7 linked regions of the Homo sapiens genome follow. The protein of the gene in region 1 purifies or fractionates together with the protein of each later gene. This does not show direct contact. Each region holds a gene or a part of one and is shown in the gene's direction. Other genes may lie near its edges.

Region 1 (3,500 bases):
TTGTTTGAGCCCAGGAGGTTGAGGCTGCCGTGTGCCATGATGATGCCACTGCGTTCTAGCCTGGATTACAAAGCAAAACCCGTCTCTTAAAAAAAAAAAAAAAAAAATTAAAGATTCCCAACATTAAGTCAGACAGATAAGAAACTGTTTATAAGAAACTAAGAACTATATTCATATTAAATTATGACGTTTAATCTGAGTTTTTTTTCTTTTTTCTTTTTCTTTTTTTTTTTTTTTGAGACAGAATCTCACTCTGTTGCCCAGGCTGGAGTGCACTGGTGCATCTCGGCTCACTGCAAGCTCCGCCCCCTGGGTTCATGCCATTCTCCTGCCTCAGCCTCCCGAGTAGCTGGGAATACAGGCGCCCGCCACCACGCCCAGCTAATTTTTTGTTTATTTAGTAGAGACGGGGTTTCATCTTGTTAGCCAGGTTGGTCTCGATCTCCTGACCTCGTGAGCCACCCGCCTCGGCCTCCCTAAGTGCTGGGATTACAGGCGTGAGCCACTGTGCCTGGCCTTTTCTTTTGTTTAACTTGGGGTCGGAAAACAAATTTTTTCTTCATCTTTTAGTACATTGCTTGGGAAATAATTGTCATTACACAAATAGAAAATGTTTGTCAAACTGAAAGCTGCCATTCTTAAGCTAGAATTTTTTCCTTCTATATATTTCATTAGTAAAGTTTCTTTTGGTATGTTATTTCTCTTACCACTTCATGTGATTCTCAGAGACTAGCCCATTGCTTTCAGTTATAGGATACTTTTACAACGCATTTATTAATATGACAAATGTTTTGCCGTTACCAGATGTGATGTTTGAGCTCTTCTTTTTAAGATTTGCACTTACATAATTTACATAATTAGCTATTTGTCTTCTAAAAATGTTATCTTTAATGTTTTTAGATTCATAAACATACAGTTGTTAACCAGAGAGATTACTGGTGATTTTAAAACTTTAAAAAATTTCATTCCTTTAATTTTTAAAAGTTTCTTTTATGGAGAAGTTTAAACATATTAAAAAATAGAATAATATAATGAGCCCTTCATGATAAGCTAGTTTATTAGTTATCAACTCATGGCTACTTTAGCTTCCTGTAAACATCTCCCAGTGTTGATGGTTATCTGAGATGACACATCCTCTGACCATATTTCAGTGTGTATATTTATAATGTTCCTTTTAAAACACCACACAATACCTTAAAAATTTAATTAAAAAATTTAAATATTGTGAACGATCTAGTGATTAAATTCCTTTTTAAAATTTAAATAAAAAATTATTTTAAAAAATTTTTTGTGGGTACATAGTAGGTGTACATATTTATGGGGTACATGAGATGTTTTGATACCAGCATGCAATGTGAAATGATTCAGTACTTTTAAGAACCAAACAAATCATTTTTTTAAATGTAGCTAATGCTAATTTCTGTTACCGCTTGTGTTTGTTAAGAGAAAGGCTACTTTATTTGGCAAATTGGAGTTCCTGTTTTTGCTTATTATATCATTGCTAAGAAAATACATAATAGCTACTCGGGAGGCTGAAGCAGGGGAATCGCTTGAACCTGGGAGGTGGAGGTTGCAGTGAGCCGAAATCACACCACTGCACTCCAGCCTGGTGACAGAGTGAGACTGTGTCTCAAAAAAAAAAGAATCTTGGGTAGTCAGCCATTTATAGTACTGAGCTATAAATGAGTGGCTACAGAATGCTTTTTAAATTTAAGGTATGATTAATTTAAAATGTACACTTTGCTTGCCATAGTTTTAAGTTTTTGAATGCGTAATGACAAATAATTGAAATGAAATCAACTTTCTTTTATTAATTATAATTCGATTTTGTTTTCCTTTGTGTTGGTTATAAAAAAATGGTAACCTTACTTTTTTTTTTTAACAAATCAAAAGTTGGAAACATTTTCAAAGTTTTAGAATTTTAAGATTAAGTATTTGCTTTATTAAAGAATTAGTCAATATAGTATGCAACTGTTTTGATGAGAAATTTGTATTTTTCCCTCTCCAGCCATGCACTGAAGTATTATTTATAGATATATTCCATGAATATAATCAGACTCTTACTCCTGTACTTCTAGAAATGATGCAAACACTTCAAGGTAAGGCATATTTTGTGATTAACTTTGAGTTAATCTCTTTAACGTTTAGTTAAGAAATAGTCTGAGTGCCTACAATGCATACTGTACTGTTTCCTGGGTCATATAATAAATATGAATTTGAGAAAAACAATTTTAAAACTTATTATCTTCCAAGGGGGTGGCATTTGAGATAGGCCTTGAATTATAGTTTGGACGATGATAAATTTTCCTGTAGTAAATACAATAGAAGCAAAAGCAAAACAGTAGTCATACTGCTTGCAGAAAGTCTATCTGGAGCGTGTTGTGAGAAATAGTGAGAAAAGGTTAAAATAGTGTTAGCCTCTCTTAGAATGGTGGCAGTGGGAATGGAAATAATTGATTATGGATTTGAGAGAAAATGATGATGTAAATTTTTGACACTTGGTCATTACACTTTGTACACAAGTAACTAATTATCTGCCTATTAACTAACATTGATTTATGATTTCTGTCTTTTCTGCTAGACTGTAAGTCCTAGGGGCATTGATCACGTCTGTTTTGTTTATATTTTATTCCCAGTGCTGGGCATATTCAGTAACTATTGTTACTTGATTGACTTTTAGCAACCGATTGAATGTGCTAGGCAAGGAAAAGTGATCAAAGATGATCCTAAACTTTTGAGCCTTAATGACAAGGAAACAGTTACCTCATTAGAAGTGGTAGGAGATAGAGATATACTTTCGGAGTGCATGTATGTAAGGAGCCTTGGGAAAAGAAAAGAGGATCTTAAGGACAGAACCTGAGATTTTCACCTATAGGGATATGAGTAAATAAAAGCCTTGTAAAAATGCCAGGTGTAGTGGTGTATCCTAGAGAAGAGCATGTTGTCAGAATGAGTGTTGGCCAGGCATGGTGACTCACGCCTGTAATTCCAGCACTTTGGGAGGCTGAGGTGGGCAGATCACTTGAGCCCAGGAGTCCCAGACCAGCCTGGACAACATGGCAAAAACCTGTCGCTACAAAAATTAGGAAAATTAGCTGGGCCTGGTGGTTAGTACCTGTAGTCCTAGCTATTCAGAAGGCTGAGGTTGGAGGATCATTTGAGCGCAGGAGGATGAGGCTGCAGTGAACTGAGAAAACCTCACTCCACTGTACTCCAGCCTGGGTGACAAAGCAAGACCTTGTCTCAAAAAAAATAATTTTGTGGTATATAGCACATTAGCATTTTGTGGTGTATATTTTCTAGAATATTGCTTGTCATAACATTTTTCAAATATGCTATAATGGTTTTTAATCCTGTGTTCTCTAATGATAATCATAAAACTTAGACTTTCCCTTTGTACTTGTGTCCATTTTTGACACCATGAAATGTGTTATACTTAATTGAATTGGGAAACTAACAAATTGTGTTTAAATATAAATTTTTTAAAAAACTAGTTTTAT
Region 2 (3,500 bases), on another chromosome or scaffold:
CGATGATAAATAAAACAGTATATTGTTTGTACTTGGAATTTCTGATTAAATGTGTCACAACTGTTGTCTTATATTAGAATTGGTTATTTCTACCTTGTTGCTGACAGTTATTTTCAATATGTTTACAATTTGGAGGTAAAAAAATGCTTTTGCCAAGTAAAATTTATTAGAGAAGAAAATCCTTTCAGCATGAAAATATATAATGATACCAAAAATTGATTGATCATCTTATTTTCATGTACTTCATTACTTAATTGCTCATAAAGATATAATTTACTGTATAATTAGAATAAAGTATTCTTTTTTTACTGTAATAAAGGGCAGATGATCTTGTGTTGCTCTTTTAGTGAGTTTTATTCATATTGAGATTTCATTTTACAAAAGTCATGTCAGTTTTTTTACACTTGTTTTAAACTGGCAGCAGCTTAGTTAAAAATAGCTGTTTCCAGTGAACATGAAGCTCCTACAAAATCTGTATTTTTAAAAATTCACTCTATCATGCATATGATGTGGACACATTTTGCTTTACAATATGTAAAAGTCTATTATAAAGTAAAATATATTAGGTCATTTTATGAGTTTGCTGGAGCTGCTGTAACAAAGTACTACAAACTGAGTCGTTTCAACGACAGAAATACATTGTTTCCCACTTCTTGAGACAAGCACACTTGAAGTCTGAGACCAAGGTGCCAGTAGGGCCACGAGCTCTCTGAAGGTATGAGACAGGATCTATTCGAGGCTGCCTTCTTAGCTCTTGTGCTTTGTTGGGAATCTTTGGGCTTCCTTGGCTTGTAGATACATCACCTTGGTCTCTGCCTTCATGCTCACATGACATTCTCCCTGTGTGTGTCTCAGTGTCCAAATTTCCCCATTTTGTAAGGACCCCAGTCATATAGGATTGGGCAAGCCCATCCTACTCCAGTATGATTTTATCTTAAATAATTACCATCTGTAATGCCCCTATTTCCAAATAAAGTTGCATTCTGAGCTATTGTAATTAGGACTTTAATATGAATTTTGGGAGGGGCACAGTTCAATCCATAACAGTCGTTATTTGCATAAAAGGATTAACCACAGTATTCTATATTTGATTCAACATCTAAGAGGACAGTTCAGCCTATAAATAACATATAACTTTCTATTGCATCAAAAAGATATACTTTCTCCTTTTTTAATGAGTTGGTTAGTATATTGCTAAGTTCTGAATGTGTCCCTCTAAAATACGTATGTTGAAGCTTGACTGCCAATGTGACAGTATTAAGAAATGGGGCCTTTAGGAGGTGACTAAGTCATGAGGGCACTCATGATTAAGTCATGAATGGGATTAGTGCTCTCTTAAAAGAAGTTGAAGGGGTCACCCTGTCCCCTTCCACCGTGTGAGGGTTTAGCAACAAGGCACCATCTTTGAAGCAAAGGGTGGGCCCTAGCCAGGCACAAATCTGTTAGTGCCTTCATCTTGGACTGCTAGCCTCCCAAACTGTGAGAAATAAATTCTATTATTTATAAATTACCCCGTCTAAGATATTTTGTTAGTAGCCTGAACAGACTAAGTCAGAAATATACCTATTATAAATTGTGTTTTCTGATTTTTTTAAATGATAAAATTAATTTGGGTAGGCTGGGTTTTATGATACAGTCTGGTATATGTTTATTTGTCACACTCAGATTCCTTAACTGGGAAAATTTCATCATGTTTGTGTTCTGTGTCTTTTTGTTTTACCTAATTTCCTCTTTCAGAATGCTGTATTTTATATGGATGCTTTGCTCAGGAGACCATTACATAAGTCTTTTCATGCATTTGTTGATTTGGTGAGATGTTAAACTTACTAAGTATTGGATTAAATATCTAATTAGTTATGACTTTATCTCAGTGAGATTTTCAGTTTCTTAATTGCCTCTAAGCAGTCAACTCTCTGCTGCCTTTAAAATCTTGGCTGTGGCTTGTTGCTTGACCCAGGATTTCTACACCTGTACCCTTTCACATTCTTAGCCAGTAGTCTCTAATAGGCTGCAAGGGGCCTATATATTTTATAAAATTATAAGTAACATTTTATACATGCATTTTTCTGAGGGAGAATGCCCTTAGCCTGTTACCAGATTCTTAAATAAATTCCTAATTGCTGCCCCTTCCTCCCCTCGAAAAGTAAAAATAGGGTGGGGCGTGGTGGCTCACTCCTGTAATCCCAACACTTTGGGAGGCCAAGGCGGGCGGATCACTTGAGGTCAGGAGTTCAAAACCGGCTTTGCCAGTGCAGTGAAACCTCGTCTCTACTAAAAATACAAAAAGATTAGCTGGGCGAGGTGGCAGGTGCCTGTAATCCCACCTACCCAGGAGGCTGAGGCAGGAGAATTGCCTGAACCCAGGAGGCCGAGGTTGCAGTGAGTCAAGATGGTGCCACTGCACTCCAGCCTGGGCAACAGAGTGAGATTCTGTTTCAAATAAATAAATAAATAAATTCATCATGTCATCAGGAGAAAGTGGATGTTTCTTACAATAATCACTCCAACAGTTCTGTTACTGGGCTTTAGGATGCCTGATCAAAATGCAGCCTTCTCTGCATTAATTTAGCAGCAATCAAATGTAAAAAACCTTTCCAGAGGTGTCAGGATTGAATGAGGTAATGCTTGTGAGAGTGCCATGCTTGCATAATAAGGATCACTTGAACCATGTAAAACAAAATGTTGTTAATGCGCTTGAAGTCAACGATACGGGCCTGTGGGGTATATGAAAAGAAAGTGGTGACTGAAAATGATTTCTCTGTAGACTGAGAGTCCTCGTGATTGAAGTTTGTGTTGTTGAAACAGCTATATTTTTGCAAGCTTTTTTCCCCATAGTGATTCTTTAATATTTTAAATTGAGTTTATATGAATTTTGGTTTCAGTCTACTTAGAAAATTTTAAAGTAACCTGCAAATTAATTAGAAGTACCCTAGAAAATGGCAAGACTTGGTTGGGGCAAATGGTGACTGTTTTGAGACAGATGTCATTGTGGAAGGGAGAGGTTTAATATTCAGGGGAAGGGAGCTGAAGCTTGCAGAGCAGATTCCATTCTGCCAAGCCTCTTGTGCTGCATACAGAGTCTCAGGGCATCAAGCAACCCGAGGGCTTTCTTCAGAGGAGTAGCTTGAGGCAGCGGCGAGAGAAGGGCAGGACACACTGACAAATGAATAATGAGAATTAGGTGAGGAGATGGAGTTTAAGAACTGCTTCAAACTTTAAGGTGGATACCTGATGGGGCTTTCTAGAGATGAGCAATTCTTCTCAATTTAAGGCCAGATAGGGGAGATGCTAAGTAGGTAAGAAGTCAGTGGATTTTTTGGCCTCCTTTTTTCTCTTTTTGTTCTTTTAATCCTTCGTACCCTTGTCCTGTGTTCTTTTAGGTAATGTTCAGTGAGGTGTAGCCACAAGAGGGGACATAGGAGAGGCTCAAGAAAACAGAGTTTATTATACTCACATGTCTTAGAATGACAATCACTGTACAGGAGGATAGGAGGGGGGAC
Region 3 (3,500 bases), on another chromosome or scaffold:
GCTCATGTAATCCTCCTACCTCAGCCTCCCAGGGTAGCTGGGACTACAGGCACTTGCCACCATGCTGGGCTAATTTTTTTTTTTTTCTGTCACCCGGGCTGGAGTGCAGTGGCATGATCATGACTCACTGCAGCCTCAGCCTGCTGGGCTCAAGCGATCCTCCTGCCTCTGCCTCAGCCTCCCAAGTAGCTGAGACTATAAGTGTGCACTACCACGCCTGGCTAATTTTTGTATTTTTTGTTTTGCTATGTTTCCCAGGCTGGTATTGAACTCCCAAGCTCAAGCAATCTTCCTGCCTCTGCCTCCCAAAGTGCCGGGATTACAGGCATCAACTACCTTGCCCAGCCATGGACATATTTTATACCTACCACTGGCTTCTGTGGTTGAAAGGAACACATGTCAGCTTGTCAAGGAGGGAGGCCCGGTTCTTTCAAGACTAAGACTCATGTGGCTTTGCAGAGCTAGACAGGGGTTAGGACCCTCAGCAGCTGCAGTTCCTGAGTCTCCTCACTGGTGCTCCAGCATCAGTGTGACTCCAGTGCATGACCTTTTAATTCTTTATTGCAGTGATTCCCAGACTTGTAAATTATTCAGATTTCTGAGACATCCCCTCTTGACTCGGTAGTTTGGGGTGTGGCTCAGGAAGCTGCATGCTTAAAAGCACTCCAGGTGAGTCTTAGGTGGGTGAAGACGTTGCCTTTACTCTGCTTTTCCTTTCTATATTCCAGGGGTCAACAAACTTTTTCTATGAAGGGCCAGAGAGTAAATATTTTAGTATTTGTGGGACAGATAAGTCTCTGTCAACATATTTTTAAAAATCCTTTAAAATGCAAAAAGCTGGCTGGGCACAGTGGCTCACGCCTGTAATCCCAGCACTTTGGGATGCCGAGGAGCGCGGATCACCTGAGGTCAGGAGTTCAAGACCAGCCTGACCAACATGGTGAAACCCCATCTCTACTAAAAATACCAAAAATTAGCCGAGTATGGTGGCACATGCCTGTAATCTCAGCTACTAGGGAGGCTGAGGCAGAAGAATCGCTTGAACCCAGGAGGTAGAGGTTGTAGTGAGCCAAGATCGCACCACTGCACTCCAGCCTGGGTGACAGAGCAAGTCTCCATCTCAAAAAGAAAAAAGAAAGGCAAAAAGCTGCTGGCCAGGTGTGGTGGCTCATGCCTGTAATCCTAGCATTTTGGGAGGCCGATGTGGGAGAATTGCCTGAGACCAGGAGTTTGAGACCAACCCAGGCAATGTAGAGAGACCCTCATCTCTAAAAAAAAAAAAAAAAAAAAAAAAATTAAAAATGAGTCAAGTGTGGTGGCACACCCCTGTAGTCTCAGCTACTTGGGAAGCTGAGGTAGGAGGATCACTTGAGCCCAGGAGGTCAAGGCTGCAATGAGCCTTGAATGCACTACTGCACTCCAGCCTGGGCAAGAGCGTGAGACCCCGTCTCAAATAAAATAAAATAATGTGAAAGCTATTCTCAACTCCCTGGATTTGCCAACTCCTTCTCTACCCCACGGCTTCTGCTCACCCTGACTTTGGTTCACTTAGGTCTTTTCAAGGCTTCTGTCTTTCTCTACCTCAGTTTCAACTTTTCCTGCTGACTTCTTGAGTCCCTCATGAGGTCCCCAACTGACTCCCATTACCTGTCATCCAGCTAGTTCTTGTTTGGGCTTGTTGATTGAGGCTCCCTCCTGTCAGCCTGTGGAATGCTGAGAGGAGGGGTCACTGCCTTCATCAAATGGTGCCCCAGCCTGCCCCTAGCAAGAGTGGAATACATCCCGCTTCATCAGGGGCGGGGGCTGTGTGGGGACCCAGTGCCAGCTCAAAGGTCAGACCGCAACTAATTACGAAGGATGCTGGTTCCCTGGGCACTGAGTGGAGAGATGAGGCACAGGACATGGGATGCTCAAGCTGGAGGGGCTGTCAGAGCTTCCAAAGCTGAGTCCTCTTCCCCAGGGGAACTTGCCTGAGATCCTCCAGCAATCAGAGGCAGACATGGGACCAGAGCCCAGGTCTTGGACTCTTGGTGTGGAGTTCTCCTGACCAGTCCACGCTGCCTTCTTGCATTTATACACAGCTGCATTTCCACTGTGCACATCTGCCCTGTTTCCCACAATGCACCAACCTGGGCAGATGAGAAGCATCAGAAGGCATGTCACCTCTGACATTCCCACGCAGAGATTCTCCCCTAGAGTAGATGATAATAGATTCTGAAAGCAAGGCAGAACGTTCCTGGATATCTAGCCCACATGCTCACCAACAGGGGAAGGGACTAAGACCAGATCACCAGAGGGGAGTGACTGGCCCAGGCCATGTCACAGAGAGACACAGTGTGCCGGGCATCACGCTAGGCCTTTTTGTGTTGTTGTCAATGCTGTACTGTCCTCCCAGACACAGCAGCTGCTGGAAAGGCTGTCAGCTGACAGCTCTCAGCTGTTATCTCTCTTTGGGACTTGTCTCACCTGGGGAGAGCTGTTTCACCCTTCCCAGGGAAGCCAGTATGCAAACACTCACACCAGGCTAGTTGAGGTGACTCAGACCTATAATACCAGTGCTTTGGGAGGCCAGGTGGAAAGATCATCTGAGGCCAGGAGTTTGAGATCAGCTTGGGCAACATAGCAAGATCCCATCTCTACAAAAAAATTTAAACAATTGTCTGAGCATGATTGTGTGCACCTGTAGTCTCAACTGCTCAGGAGGCTGAGGTGGGAGGATTGCTTGAGCTTAGGGGTTTGAGGTCACAGTGAGCTATGATGGCACCAGTGCACTCCAGCAACAGAGCAAGACTCAGTCTCAAAAAAAAAAAAAAGAAAGAAAAAGACTCACTCTAACTTGGAACAACTGTGAAGGGTCTTCCAGCTCCAGAACTTCTTGGAGGCTGAGGCTTTGTGATAGCTGCAAAATGCCTCCCTCTGCCCCAGTCCTGCTTCCTTCTCTTCCCAAGAGCTCTCTCTAATAAACTTCCTGCATGTCAATCCCTGAGTCAGAGTGTATTTCCCAGAGGCACACTCTGTGACACAGCTGTTATGTCATTTATCCTCACCACAACTCTGAGAACTAGTAGTACTATCCTCAGTTTACAGGAGCTGAGGCTCAGAGAGGTTCGCTGAATTGCCCAATATCACACAGCACATGAGTGGTGGAGCCAGGATGCAAATCCAAATCCTACTGCCTCCAAATCTCACACTCTTTCCACTCTCTTGGACCAGTTCTCTTGACCACCCTTGTCCTTTGTTTTAGGGGCAAGTTTGACCCCCAGGACATGGACAAGAACTTGAATGCCATCCAGACAGTGTCAGGGATCCTGCAGGGCCCCTTTGACCTGGGCAACCAGCTGCTGGGACTGAAAGGTGTGATGGAGATGATGGTGGCACTATGTGGCTCAGAGCGCGAGACGGACCAGCTGGTGGCCGTGGAGGCCCTCATCCATGCCTCCACGAAGCTCAGCCGCGCCACCTTCATCATCACCAATGGAGTGTCACTGCTCAAACAGATC
Region 4 (3,500 bases), about 62 Mb from region 1:
CTGTAGGCACAGGTGGGATCCAAGCCCCCGGCCTCAACTCCTGGAACCATGGGGCAGGCGCGGCCTCCTCCAGGGCCATGGCCCAGAGTGAGGCTGGTGTAGGACGGCTGGCGGGGGGTCTATGCTCAGGGCGGCCAAAGACACAGCTCCTCCTGCTCTGTGGCTACCTCTGCCCACAGCTGCCCTGCTTCTCCTCCTCCCCACAGGCCTCAACACCCTCCCCCAGCCTCCCATTCCCTGCTGGACGCCCTCTCCCCAGGCCGCACAGGGCTGGTTCCTCCGAGGCACCTGGCTTCCAGTGATGGACCTCTGGCCCTGCCCCAACCTGCGCACTTGGGGCCTGACAGGCGTTCCCCGATTCATCCCTCCAGGAACAAGAAAACCAAACACTGCATTTCCTGCAATAAGTGTGTGTCCGGCTTCGACCACCACTGCAAATGGATCAACAACTGCGTGGGAAGCCGGAATTATTGGTGAGGGGCACAGAGGGGATGGCCGGCACGGGCCAGGCTTGGGGGAATTTGGAAGGGAGGGGTCTGTGGGCAGGGGTCATCGTGTTGAAAGGGTGGAGGGTCCTCTTGGGGCCGCGTCCCTGTCCTGATGTGGTGGCGCTTGGTGCCTGCGTGCCCCGGCCTCCTGTCTGGCTCTGGGGCTGTGGTGCAGCCGTCCCTGGACAAGCTCATCCGCATAGAGTAAGTCCCTGGAGGCCCCCCGGGGGCACTTGCGGGGCCACGCTGGCTGAGGCCTCCTGACCACGCTGTCCTGGGCTGGGCTGCCTTCTCTCCACCCAGGCTGAGGCTCATCCAGCACAAGGGTGGGGCCACGGAAGGGCAGTGGGCACCCAGCGCAGATGGGCGAGAGGTGTTTCCCCTGAGCATGGTCGAGGCTCACAGATGAGAGGTGTTTCCCTGAGCACGGTGGAGGCTCATAGACGAGAGGTGTTTCCCCTGAGCACGGTGGAGATGCAAGGAAGAGAGATGTTTCCCTGAGCACGGTGGAGGCTTACAGATGAGAGGTGTTTCCACTGAGCATGGTGGAGGCTCACAGGCGAGAGGTCTTTCCCCTGAGCACGGTGGAGGCGCAAGGATGAGAGGTGTTTCCACTGAGGATGGTGGAGGTGCAAGAACGAGAGGTGTTTCCCCTGAGCACGGTGGAGGCTCACAGATGAGACGTGTTTCCCCTGAGCACGGTGGAGGCTCATAGACGAGAGGTGTTTCCCCTGAGCACGGTGGAGGCTCAAGAACGAGAGGTGTTTCCCCTGAGCATGGTGGAGGCTCAAGGACGAGAGGTGTTTCCCCTGAGCATGGTGGAGGCTCACAGGCGAGAGGTATTTCCCCTGAGCACGGTGGAGGCGCAAGGATGAGAGGTGTTTCCACTGAGGATGGTGGAGGTGCAAGAACGAGAGGTGTTTCCCCTGAGCACGGTGGAGACTCACAGATGAGACGTGTTTCCCCTGAGCACGGTGGAGGCTCAAGAACGAGAGGTTGTTTCCCCTGAGCACGGTGGAGGCTCATAGATGAGAGGTGTTTCCCCTGAGCACAGTGGAGGATCCAGGGACTCTCAAGGCCCCGTGTGCTGAGCCCCGGCTGTCTGCAGCACTGTATTGTGAAGATCACCAGGGAAAAGAACCACGCCTGCTCCCCAGCTACTCTGTGCTGACCTGAAAGAGGCCTTGGTGTGCGTGGGAGTGGGGACCAACGTTGCCTGGTGTCACAGGACGCACCGGGCGGTCCCTGCCCTGCCTCCCTGCCATCCCGTCTGGAGCACAGCATGTGTCCAGAGAGGCTGAGCAGCCCGGCAGGGACAGAGAGGTTGCATGACCGCACAGCGAGTCCAGAGGCTGCGTGAGATGGTAGGGGCCGGGGAGACCCACCGGCCTCCTCCCCTGGAGAAGAGCAGCTCCACGATGGCCAAGGTGGGGCCAGCTCCTCTGGCTCATGCTAGCCCCAGGTGCCACTTCCTTCTGGACTCATTCTGCTCTGGTGCCTCGAGCTGGCTCAATCTGGCGGGTCCTGGTGGGGAAGGTGAGGGGGTGAGGGCCCACAGGCAGGTGGCAAGGAGAGGGTCTGCCTTCCTCAGGAGGGGTGCTGGAGAGGGACCACGTGGGTGCCAAGTGTAGACACCGCCTGGGTGTGGGAAAGGGGCATCAGGAGAGCAGGGCCGGGGTCATGGGCGCCCTCAGCTCCAGGCAGCAGCCAACGCCGGCATCTGTGCCAACCTCGCTTCTGTCCCTTCATCCGCCAGAGGCGGAGAGAGCAACGGCATTGAGAGCAAGATGAGGAAAGTTGAGGAGCTGATGGCAGAGCCCCCGCGAGGGAGGCCGAGCTGATGGCGGAGCCCCCATGGGGAGGCCCAGCTGATGGCAGAGCCCCTGTGAGGGAGGCTGCATACTTCGTAGTGATAAGAGAGGAAGGGGGACGGAAAGAAGGCAGGCGGCGCTGGTGTCCTGGGAAGACTGTGAGCGCTGGCCTCGGACTCTGCAGGTTAAACACAGGCAGCAGGGGCAGGAGGCTGTGCTAACCAAGAGGAGAATGTCCCTGGGTGGCTGCGGGGAGAGGAGGCCCCGCGTGAATGGCTCTGCCCCATCCTGTGGGCTTTTGTCTCTGTGGTCTTAGAGACCCGCCTTCTTTCCTGGATGAAGAGGGGAGTCCTGTCCAGACAGTAGGATGAAGATGAGGGGTCTTTACTCCCCACAAGTGGGCTCAAGCCCAGGAGGACTGGGGGCAGGGTAGGGCGTGTCCGCTGCCTGGAGGGGCTGCTGCTTGGGAAACCTAAGCTGTGAGAGGGAAGGCAGTATGAGGGAGCAGCAGTCAGGGAGCCGCTCATGCCTGGAGCCACCCGTCACCCCTGGATTATCCAGAAGACTCTTGGAGGGAGGAGGAGCGCGGGGAAGGCAGCTGTGCCCTAACTGCCTCTTCGGAGGACTGCGGCATTCATGCTCTGGCCTCCAGTTGAAAATAGAAAAAGGGATTTAAACAAGCTTAGGTGAACATAATACAATGGAAAGGATTAAAGGAGGTTAAAGGATACTTTTAAAAAAATATCATCATGGCAGAAAGACCAAGGGAAGATGGTTTAGTCAAAGTATGTTCCAGGAACTGCTGCCCAGAATTGGTTTTTGTGGATGGATTATTCTCTGCATCTTTTGAGCAAAGACGAGAGACTGGGAGTGGATTTGGTCTCACGTCTACAGCATGGACATCGCTTTTGGCTCAGATTTGCACGAGACCCTTGGAGAAGGGGGGACTGCAGCCGAGGTGTGGCCGGGCTCCTCCAGGGCCTCCTCAGCCCGAGTTCCCTTTGGGTGCAGAGATCCAGGTCCCTGAGCCTGCAGGCCCTCCTGGGTGCCACGGCACTCTCGTGGCTCTCCCCTTCCCTGGCTTCAGTGCCTTTGCCCAGCATGGTGCCATGGAGACCCCAGCACAGACCATGCTCAGGGCCCCCCGAGTGGACCGAGCCCGCGTGCTCCTTGGCTGGTAGGGAGGCCTGTCTGCATCAGG
Region 5 (3,500 bases), on another chromosome or scaffold:
TGCAGCCTTGACATCCCTGGCTCAAGAGATCCTCCCTCCTCAGCCTCCTTAGTAGCTGCGATTTACAGACACATGCCACCATGCACAGCTAATTTTTTTTTTTTTTTGAGATGGAGTTTCGCTCTTGTTGCCCACGCTGCAGTGCAATGGCGCCATCTCGGTTCACCACAACTTGCACCTCCCGGGTTCAAGCAATTCTCCTGCCTCAGCCTCCCGAGTAGCTGGGACTACAGGTGTCCACCACCACACCCAGCTAAATTTTGTGTTTTTAGTAGAGACGGGGTTTCACCATGTTGGTCAGGCTGGTCTCAAACTCCTGACCTCAGGTAATTCACCTGCCTCAGCCTCCCAGAGTGCTGGGATTATAGGCGTGAGCCACTGCACCTGGCCACAGCTAATTTTTAAAATAATTTTTGTAGAGATTGAGTCACTGTGTTGCCCAGGCTGGTCTTGAACCTCTGGTCTTGTGTGATCCCTCTTCAGCCTTCCAAACTGCTGAGATTACAGGCGTGAACCACTGTGCCAGGCTGAAATTGGTCATCTTAAGATAAAGACAGTGCTGTTATTACCCATTCCCAGTTTCACAGTTTACAAGGCTGTTTGATGGTAGCAACTATTCTCCTTTTATACAAACAGCCTGGACTGGATGCCTCTTGGGCTTGTCTATGTGAATCCTTTATGATTAGTCTGATGAAGATTCTTTGGAGCAAATTTATCTTTTTCTAAGGTACATCCTTTAATGACCCTTTTATCTCAGGGAGAAAGAGAGTAATGATAATAACAGTAACAAAATAAATATTAACTACTATGTACCAGGCACTGTTAGGCATTACAATTGTTTGTGCATTCACTCATCGAACCTTTGCAACATCACTAAGAGGTAGGAGCCCCATTCCCGATTTATAGATAAGTAGGTTGAGATTTGTAGCTTTACCGAGGTCACACAATAAGTCCCAGAGTTGGAACTTGCCAGCTGGTCTCCAAAGCTGGGGTTGTTAACCAAACCAATATCTACCTGTGAGGATTGGGCTGTCTTTTGATGCAGGAAGTAGGGCTTAGAGAGGGCCAGTGTCATTCTGGGTTAACTGTCCTGTTTCGGCTTGGTCTTCTGTCCTTCAGGGAAGCTTGTGGGCTGTGCCATCATCCATGTCAATGGAGACAGCCCAGAGGAAGTGGTCCGTGCCACACGACTGGCTTTTGAATACCAACGCCAGTTCCGCAAGGATGTGATTATTGATCTGTTGTGCTACAGGCAGTGGGGCCACAATGAGCTGGATGAGCCATTCTACACCAACCCCATCATGTACAAAATCATCAGGTACAATTATAAACCCTTGTGTGATATGCCCCCTAAAAATTAAAATTACTATTATTATTCTTTTGAGATGGAGTCTTGCTTTGTCACCCAGTCTGGAATGCAGTAGCACGATCTTGGCTCACTGCCATCTCCACCTCCCGGGTTCAAATGATCCTCCTGCCTCAAGTGATCCTCTTGCCTCAACCTCCCGAGTAGCTGGGATTACAGGCGTGTGCCACCGTGCCTGGCTAGTTTTCATACTTTTTAGTAGAGATGGAGTTTTGCCATGTTGGCCAGGCTGATGTCAAACTCCTGACCTCAGGTGATCTGCCTGCCTCGCCCTCCCAAAGTGCTGGGATTACAGGCATGAGCCACCATGCCCAGGCAGGACATGAAACTTTAAGAGCTAAAGCTGACACAGTTCTGGGCTGGAGTGCAGGTGGCACAGTCTTGGCTCACTGCAACCTCTGCCTCCTGGGTTCAAGCAATTGCAATTCTTGTGCCTCAGCTTCCTGAGTAGCTGGGATTACAGGTATGCATCACCACGCCTGGCTAATCTTTGTATTTTTAGTACAGACAGGGGTTTCGCCATGTTGGCTAGGCTGGTCTCAAACTCCCGGTCTCAAGTGATCCACCTGCCTTAGCCTCCCAAAGTGCTAGGATTACAGGCATGAGCCACCGTGCCTGGCCTCCCATACTCTTCACACTTGACATGGTTCCTCATTGAATAGAAAAAGGGCAATAGAAAACTCAGCAGATGGGAAGATTGAAGCAGGGGGAATTAAGCAAACCTCGCCCAAATCTATTTACTGCAGTGTCGGCAGGACCAGAAATAGAACCTCAGTGATTCATTTCTACAAACCATAGCTGCAGACCTGCCTGGCACCTTGGTGAGAGGTAACTCAGAAGATTCTAATGAATGTTCAGAACCATGCTGTCCAAGATGGAAGCCACTAGCCATCAGTGGCTATTGAGTACTTGAAAAGTGGCCAGTCCTGATTAATGTGCTGTAAGGATAATACACACACCATATTTCAAACACTTAGCATGTAAAATATAAACCCAAAATAATATTTTTAAATTTATTAGATATGGAAATGACAATATAATGAGTATATTGACTTAAATAAAATATGTTATTGAAATGCCGGGCATGGTGGCTTATGCCTGTAATCCCAGCACTTTGGGAGGCCAAGGTGGGTGGATCACTTGAGGTCAGGAGTTTGAGACCGGCCTGGCCAACATGGTGAAACCCCATCTCTACTAAAAATAGAAAAATTTGGCCAGGCGCGGTGGCTCACGCCTGTAATCCCAGCACTTTGGGAGGCCGAGGCGGGCGGATCACGAGGTCAGGAGATCGAGACCATCCTGACTAACACGGTGAAACCGCGTCTCTACTAAAAATACAAAAAATTAGCCGGGCGTGGTGGCGGGCGCCTGTAGTCCCAGCTACTCGGGAGGCTGAGGCAGGAGAATGGCGTGAACCCGGGAGGCGGAGCTTGCAGTGAGCCCAGATCGCACCACTGCACTCCAGCCTGGGTGGCATAGCGAGACTCCGTCTCAAAAAAAAAAAAAAAAAAAAAGAAAAGAAAAGAAAAGAAAAAGAAAAATTAGCTGGCGTTGTGGCGCGTGCCTGTAGTCCCAGCTACTCGGGAGGCTGAGGCAACAGAATCGCTTGAACTGGGGAGGCGGAGGTTGCAGTGAGCTGAGATTGTGCCACTGCATTCCAGCCTGGGCGACAGAGCGAGACTCGGTCTCAAAGAAAAAACAAGAAGAAAAGAAATTAATTTCACCTGTTTCTTTTTATCTTTTCTAACGTGACTGCCAGAAAATTTTAAATTACTCATGGCTTGCATTTCATTTCTGTCCCATGGTGCTGATTCAGATGGTTAATGTGACGGAGGGGGAATTTGTTACTTTGGAACTTCCTTTTCTAGATACTAGAAAATAAAATAGATTCCCCTCCTCCAAGTTTATTTCCTTATAGATATAAATTAAAGCAGAGGAATACACGTTTTATGAGCGTTTCTGATCCTTGGTACCAGAAAGAGGACTGCTCTCAGAAGAACTAATTGTGTTCTGTTTAGCTCTGAATTTAGCAGCTGAATGACTCAGTGAACCTCAGGGTTCTATTTTATTTTATTTATTTTTTTGAGACACGGTCTTGCTCTGTCGCCCAGGCTGTAGTGCAGTGGTATGATCA
Region 6 (3,500 bases), on another chromosome or scaffold:
CTCTTTTTCTTCTGTCAGAGGACCATTCTTAGTGGCACTGGGGAAATCTTGGCACCCAGAAGAATTCAACTGCGCTCACTGCAAAAATACAATGGCCTACATTGGATTTGTAGAGGAGAAAGGAGCCCTGTATTGTGAGCTGTGCTATGAGAAATTCTTTGCCCCTGAATGTGGTCGATGCCAAAGGAAGATCCTTGGAGTAAGTATTGGAAACGTTTTTATTCTGAATGAGTTTTAAAGTAGAATAATTTTTTGATATGAAAGTCTTCTATCACTTTAACTTTTTATTTTCTTCTTGCTTTATGCCCTCTCTGCTTTCGGCACTATTTATTATTGTAAAGCAAAACTAAATAGACCTCTGTGGAAATATATCGGACTCATGGGGTTAGGTTGTCTTTGGTTTTGTCTCACTGAGTGCTGGCTTGTCTGGTGAAAGTCTAGCCACTGTGGGGAAAAAATAATTTACTGTGGGTGTGCTTCCTCAACAGGAGCCTGTTTGCTCAGGAATGAAGAGGTCGCATAGGACCACACACATCTGAGTTCTTAGAACTGACACCTTCACTGTTTTAAATTAAATTCCATAGCTTTTATAAGAGCAGTATTTCCCTACTTGTCAGAGTTCAAGCACAGGACACTGATTTCATGAAATATATAAAACATGAGGTTTATAAATGATATATTTTTCTTGAATACATACAGTGTTTAAAAATATAACCTCAGTTTTATGAGAGTGCACATGTGATGGAAAAATAATTTTTTTTCCTTTTTTGCAAAAAAAGGAGTAATTTAGGAATCAGATACAGTACATAATAAATAATGAATACATGAATTTCTTGCTCTGGAATACCTAGTTTCCAATGATAAAGTAAGGGTCAGGCATACTTTATGGTGACTAGGAGCTGGAATCTGATTTCAGAAGAAGCCAGAGTACCTGGCTTCACACAAAAATTGGACATGGCCCTGCTGAACTCTAATATACTCTCAATGTGAAAATATGATAATGAAACTCTAATTATTGTTAATTGAGAGAATAGGTAGTATGAATTATTGAGTAGTCTTAAGATATCTCTTAGGATATCCTTAAATATGTCTGAAACGTTGAAGACACTTAAAATTATATATATGTCACCTGAAATATTTCTAGATTATTGATTTGTGTAATATGTTGGGAACAAAGAAGTGGAATGGTTCAGACTGTACCTTCCCAAATGATAACAAATAATTAATAGAATATTCATTAATACTGTTTTAGTGTATCAAGGTATTCTATAAATGTTAGAATAACAAAACAAAGTGAAGTTAGAGTCTTAGACCCAAATAAAGTTCTGGGAAATGGAAATCTCATACTCATTGCCTTGGAGATGGGCCAGAACTTCAATAGCTTGTCTAGATTGTATTTTAGTTATTTGATTACCTGTTAAAGATTTCTCTCAAGGATGGAAAGGGAAGAATATTCTGGAAGCCTTGGGAGATAGTTTGATTCAATATACATCTTCTACAAATGTTCATGGTGAATTTTTTGGATCTAAATGTCTGTTTCTTCCCATTGTCCTTCAGTAGTGAACTGTGACAATTTCTATGGCTAATAAGTCTATATTATTTCATTTTATTTTGATATTTTTTATAAAAGAAAATAGTTCACTCAAGCACAATTAGAAAACACAAAAAATTTAAAGAATAAATTTAAATGACCTAAATATTTACCAATCACAGATAATTACTGTTAACCTTATGATGTGTTTTTTTCTAGTTTGCTCTTTATAAGTAATGTGTTTACAAAATTGTAATCATGCTTTATGTATATGATTTTTTGTGATAAATATTATAGAAAGAGTATTCACTACTCATCCAAAATTATTTTAATGGCTCCATCTTTCTCTCAATCCAAAGAAATGATTTCTTGTAAAACCAACACCCAAAACCTCTTTTACTAACTAATATCTGGCCCAAATCTTTATAACTTGGTATGTTTAACCATTGGGCCATTGCTGACTAGAATATGGTCCAAATTTTACACATTCGAGTCTGTGCTTAGTGCCATCTTAGCTGATTTCCAAAAGCCTAAACACGTGTTAAACTGATTGGATTACATTATATTTTTATTATATTTTATTACATTATATACATTTATATACATTATATACATGTAATATATACAACTATATATAATTATGTATATTTTATTATTTTTATTTATTTATTTATTTTTTTGAGACGGAGTCTTGCTGTGTCACCCAGGCTGGAGTGCAGTGGCGCGATATCGGCTCATTGCAAGTTCCACCTCACGAGTTTATGCCATTCTCCTGCCTCAGCCTCCCAAGTAGCTGGGACTACAGGCACCCACCACCACGCCCAGCTAATTTTTTGTATTTTCAGTAGAGACGGGGTTTCACCGTGTTAGCCAGGATGGTCTCGATCTCCTGAACTCGTGATCCGCCCGCCTCGGCCTCCCAAAGTGCTGGGATTACAGGTGTGAGCCACTGCGCCCGGCCCCATTATGTTTTGTTATTAAATTATATATATTATATTATTGCTTCTAAAATGCACCAAAGTATAGGTTTGTTTTAATTTTTAAATGCTTCCTCCTTCCCCCAGAACTTTTGCAGATAATACCATAAAACCTTGGTAAGTTAATGTTTCCTGACACCCTTTGAGAAGAAGCAGAAAGTTTTGTAGCAAGCATTTATGAAATGCTTACTTTATTCACTGTACATATAATGTATAAATAACATAGTGATCATTCTTTAAGTTTATTGATTGGCATTTGTAAAGAACACACGTCTAAATATGCATCCGTTTAGATGATTTGTGAGTCTGTTCTTAAGTATCTCTTGTTACTTTGAGGGAAAGCTCAAGACAAAAATGAAGTATGTGTGCCTACTTTGGATTAGCTCTACAGGGATTTACTGGTACAGATATTAGAATAAACATTTATGTATTTATTGTCATCTTCTTTTTTTACATCCAATTACCTTTCTGTAACAGGAAGTCATCAGTGCGTTGAAACAAACTTGGCATGTTTCCTGTTTTGTGTGTGTAGCCTGTGGAAAGCCCATTCGGAACAATGTTTTTCACTTGGAGGATGGTGAACCCTACTGTGAGACTGGTAAGATCAGGGAGCCATTTGTTTCTTGAATTTTGAATAAAGGTAAAACATTAACCCTTATATTACTATAAAGCTCAAGAAAATATTAGGCAAAGTTATTTTCTTAATTGTTTTGGAAGCATTTAATGCTGCTCTAAGCATGTAGAAAAAACTATGTAGATTTTTTTTTTTCTTTTGAGACGGAGTCTCACCCTTGTTGCCCAGACTGCAGTGCAATGGCCCAATCTCGGCTCACTGCAGCCTCTGCCTCCCAGGTTCAGGCGATTCTCCTGCCTCAGCCTCCCGAATAGCTGGGAATACAGGCATGTGCCACCATGCTCGGCTCATTTTGTATTTTTAGTAGAGACAGGGTTTCGTCATGTTGGCCCGGCTGGTCTCGAACTCCCGACGTCAG
Region 7 (3,500 bases), on another chromosome or scaffold:
CTTCACTTTCGGTCGGGGCCCCTGCCCCTGCCCCTGCTCTGCTCAGTGCCCCTGATACGTCCAACCCAGCGTCGCTGTGAGGGAGTCAACCACACCTGCCAGCACCCCCGAGTCTGGCCCCACTAGGAGGGGCCAGGGCTCCCTTGAGCAAGGCATCAGCACACAGGCAGGGAGCCGGGCACCAGACTGTGAGGGTCGCGCCCCGTGCACACGAGATCCAGGCCCGCCCCCTCCTGGACTTGGTGACCGTCCCGAGCTCGACCTGAGAGGGCACTTCGGCTCTCCTGTTCACAGTCATGACTGCCCCCTCCCCGAGGTCAGCGCCATGCACTGCTCTGGGGGCCTGAAACACCGCCTCTGTTCGCAAGGGTCTCCTGTCCCGTCCACCTGCCAGTGGGTTGAGCTCTTCCAGGGGTTCGGGACACCCCTCACGGCAGCACCTTCACGTTTACGAGAACTGTCTCTGTCTTGTTTTGTTTCAAGTTCTCAAAACGGAGTGAGGTGGAGGAAGCCTAATGGGAGGATGGGAGCCGGGTTTTCCCGGAACAGCCGTCAGCGTGTATGCGGAGGAAAAGAGATGACTGATGAATTTGTTAATTGCCAAAAGCTTGTTGCTGTAGCAACCGGAGGCCAGACTCGTGGCCCTGACAGCGTCGTTAGTGTCAGCAGAGACTGGAAATAAAGGAAACTCGTGTATGATACGCCTGGCGTCCTCAAAGCAAACAGCAGGCGGTGCCCAGCCCAACACAGGCACGGGCACAAGATCTGCAGATGAGGCATGGAGGGGAAGCGGGCGGTGCCCAGCCCAACACAGGCACGGGCACAAGATCTGCAGACGAGGTGTGCAGAGGGGAAGCAGGTGCACAGAAAAGGTGCGCGGAGATTTTTTTTTTTTAAGACAGGGTCTTGCTCTGTCGCCCAGGCTGGAGTGCAGTGTTGCGGTCATGGCCCAGGCTCACTGCAGCCTCCATTTCCTGGGCTCAGAGGATCCTTTTTCCTCAGCCTCCCAAATAGCTGGGACTCCAGGCATGCACCGACACTCCCAGCTAATTTGCAACCCCTCACTCTCATGTAGCAATTAAAAGTAAGCCTTTATTTCTCAGTAGAAAATATTCATTCCAGTTGACATAAAAATAAATTCGTTTAAAACTTGGACGGCAGGTATTAGGGCGTGCACTTCCCGCTACTCTGCCTTTTTTTTTCCCCCCCGAGACAGAGTCTCGCTCTGTCACCCAGGCTGGAGTGCAGTGGCGTGATCTCAGCTCACTGCAACTTCCGCCTCCCGGGTTCAAACAATTCTCGTGCCCCGGCTTCCCGAGTAGCTGGGACTACAGGTGCCCACCACCACACCTGGCTAATTTTTTGCTTTTTTTTTTTTTTTTTTTTTTTAATGTGGAGATGGGGTTTCACCATGTTGGTCAGGCTGGTCTTGAACTCCTGACCTCAGGTGATCCGCCTGACTTGGCCTCCCAAAGTGCTGGTATTACAGGTGTGAGCCGCCACGCCCTGCCTACTCCGCTTTTAAATGATGGGATGCATTGCTTTTTAAGAAAGGATCTCATGGATCCAGGGGTCCCAGTATGTGATGAAAGATGGCAGTTCCCATCTTACAGAGCGGGCTGGACTCAGAGGCAGGCCGGGGAGGGAGGGGCTGGGTACAGAGGGCAGGCTTGGGAGGGAGGGGCTGGGCACAGAGGACAGGCTGGGGAAGGAGGCACTGGGCGCCGAGGGCAGGTCAGGGAGGGAGGGAGGCTGGGCACACAGAGGGCAGGTCAGGGAGGGAGGGAGGCTGGGCACACAGAGGGCAGGCCAGGGAGGGAGGGGCTGGACTCAGAGGCAGGCCGGGGAGGGAGGGGCTGGGTACAGAGGGCAGGCTTGGGAGGGAGGGGCTGGGCACAGAAGACAGGCTAGGGAGGGAGGGGCTGGGCGCAGAGGACAGGCCGGGGAGGGAGGGAGGCTGGGCACACAGGGCAGGCCAGGGAAGGAGGGGCTGGGCACACAGAGGGCAGGCCAGGGAGGGAGGGGCTGGGCACAGAGGCAGGTCCAGGAGGGAAGGAGGGAGCGGGGGAGGGGCTGTCATCCTACGGCCCAGTGCCTGCCACCTGGACAGGACTTGGAGTTCTGGGGCCCTTGTGTTTCTCTCATGCGGTATTTCCTGGACCACGAACAGTTGGGTTCTCTGAACGAGCTTGTCGTGACTGATCGGCTGTGTGTGCCAGCCCACGGGGTTCTCTTGTCTTCTGTTGGTTCCATCTGATCAGCTGATTTTATTCCTTTTGTCTCTTATAAATGAACTGTGATTCTTCTAATACCAGCAAGAATGGTTTCAAGTTATTTCTGCGCTATAGTTTGTGTATATTAGCCTCGAGTGCATGTGTGTTACATGCGTGCTGTGTGTGCGTGCAGGTGTATCACATTACCGTGCTATAGTTTGTGTGTGAGCCTCGAGTGCATGTGTGTTATATGCCTGCTGTGTGTGTGTGTGGCTGTATCACACATAATGTGTCACATAGGTGTGTATGTTAGCTACATTGTATCTACGTTAGCTAAGAAAATATTCTTAGGGTACTCACATATGGTGACTGTCCCTAGTTTCTCTCAGTGACTTTTCGGGATTGTAACTGAAGGCTAGTATGGCTCAGTTGCCCCTAATCAGGGTAAAATCAAAACAGGCTGTGCACATTTAACCAGGCTTCCACCTCTAAGGTTGTAGCTGAGGTTCCTTGGCGCAGTGGGACGTCCCAGCACGGCACCAGGAGGGAGGGTGTCTGGCAGGACATCAGGTGGTTGGAATTTCAGGGCTCTGGGGATCTCCTGGGTGTGCCCCGATCAAGTCGGCTCACGTCACAGAAACCAGGTGCACCTGCAGCGGCTCCTAAGGAAAACCTAGTGGCACTGGCTGGTTATGCAGAGGCTCGTAAGGAAAGCCTAGTGGCACCGGCTGGTTATGCAGAGGCTCCTAAGGAAAGCCTAGTGGCACCGGCTGGTTATGCAGAGGCTCCTAAGGAAAGCCTAGTGGCACCGGCTGGTTATGCAGAGGCTCCTAAGGAAAGCCTAGTGGCACCCGCTGGTTATGCAGAGGCTCGTAAGGAAAGCCTAGTGGCACCGGCTGGTTATGCAGAGGCTCGTAAGGAAAGCCTAGTGGCACCCGCTGGTTATGCAGAGGCTCCTAAGGAAAGCCTAGTGGCACCGGCTGGTTATGCAGAGGCTCGTAAGGAAAGCCTAGTGGCACCGGCTGGTTATGCAGAGGCTCCTAAGGAAAGCCTAGTGGCACCGGCTGGTTATGCAGAGGCTCGTAAGGAAAGCCTAGTGGCACCGGCTGGTTATGCAGAGGCTCGTAAGGAAAGCCTAGTGGCACCGGCTGGTTATGCAGAGGCTCGTAAGGAAAGCCTAGTGGCACCGGCTGGTTATGCAGAGGCTCCTAAGGAAAGCCTAGTGGCACCCGCTGGTTATGCAGAGGCTCCTAAGGAAAGCCTAGTGGCACCGGCTGGTTATGCAGA

What was found.
Region 2: the proteins of IPO11 (region 1) and SH3GL2 fractionate together in Homo sapiens (co-fractionation; one large-scale study listed by BioGRID). This does not show direct contact.
Region 3: the proteins of IPO11 (region 1) and UNC45B purify together in Homo sapiens (affinity purification with mass spectrometry; one large-scale study listed by BioGRID and IntAct). This does not show direct contact.
Region 4: the proteins of IPO11 (region 1) and ZDHHC11 purify together in Homo sapiens (co-immunoprecipitation; one large-scale study listed by IntAct). This does not show direct contact.
Region 5: the proteins of IPO11 (region 1) and DHTKD1 purify together in Homo sapiens (affinity purification with mass spectrometry; one large-scale study listed by BioGRID and IntAct). This does not show direct contact.
Region 6: the proteins of IPO11 (region 1) and PDLIM5 fractionate together in Homo sapiens (co-fractionation; one large-scale study listed by BioGRID). This does not show direct contact.
Region 7: the proteins of IPO11 (region 1) and CTDP1 fractionate together in Homo sapiens (co-fractionation; one large-scale study listed by BioGRID). This does not show direct contact.

Annotation. Positions count from the first base shown.
Region 1 is NC_000005.10:62,485,763-62,489,262, forward strand, and holds part of IPO11 (importin-11), read left to right. Parts: intron 1-2,008; coding exon 2,009-2,099; intron 2,100-3,500. UniProt on the Homo sapiens protein: Functions in nuclear protein import as nuclear transport receptor. Serves as receptor for nuclear localization signals (NLS) in cargo substrates.
Region 2 is NC_000009.12:17,582,066-17,585,565, forward strand, and holds part of SH3GL2 (endophilin-A1), read left to right. Parts: intron 1-3,500. UniProt on the Homo sapiens protein: Implicated in synaptic vesicle endocytosis. May recruit other proteins to membranes with high curvature. Required for BDNF-dependent dendrite outgrowth.
Region 3 is NC_000017.11:35,164,817-35,168,316, forward strand, and holds part of UNC45B (protein unc-45 homolog B), read left to right. Parts: intron 1-3,244; coding exon 3,245-3,500. UniProt on the Homo sapiens protein: Acts as a co-chaperone for HSP90 and is required for proper folding of the myosin motor domain. Plays a role in sarcomere formation during muscle cell development. Is necessary for normal early lens development.
Region 4 is NC_000005.10:844,487-847,986, reverse strand, and holds part of ZDHHC11 (palmitoyltransferase ZDHHC11), read left to right. Parts: intron 1-206; coding exon of another isoform or gene 207-371; coding exon 372-473; intron 474-3,500. UniProt on the Homo sapiens protein: Endoplasmic reticulum-localized palmitoyltransferase that could catalyze the addition of palmitate onto various protein substrates and be involved in a variety of cellular processes.
Region 5 is NC_000010.11:12,092,954-12,096,453, forward strand, and holds part of DHTKD1 (2-oxoadipate dehydrogenase complex component E1), read left to right. Parts: intron 1-1,119; coding exon 1,120-1,318; intron 1,319-3,500. UniProt on the Homo sapiens protein: 2-oxoadipate dehydrogenase (E1a) component of the 2-oxoadipate dehydrogenase complex (OADHC). Participates in the first step, rate limiting for the overall conversion of 2-oxoadipate (alpha-ketoadipate) to glutaryl-CoA and CO(2) catalyzed by the whole OADHC.
Region 6 is NC_000004.12:94,654,442-94,657,941, forward strand, and holds part of PDLIM5 (PDZ and LIM domain protein 5), read left to right. Parts: intron 1-18; coding exon 19-199; intron 200-2,985; coding exon 2,986-3,106; intron 3,107-3,500. UniProt on the Homo sapiens protein: May play an important role in the heart development by scaffolding PKC to the Z-disk region. May play a role in the regulation of cardiomyocyte expansion. Isoforms lacking the LIM domains may negatively modulate the scaffolding activity of isoform 1.
Region 7 is NC_000018.10:79,749,303-79,752,802, forward strand, and holds part of CTDP1 (RNA polymerase II subunit A C-terminal domain phosphatase), read left to right. Parts: intron 1-3,500. UniProt on the Homo sapiens protein: Processively dephosphorylates 'Ser-2' and 'Ser-5' of the heptad repeats YSPTSPS in the C-terminal domain of the largest RNA polymerase II subunit. This promotes the activity of RNA polymerase II.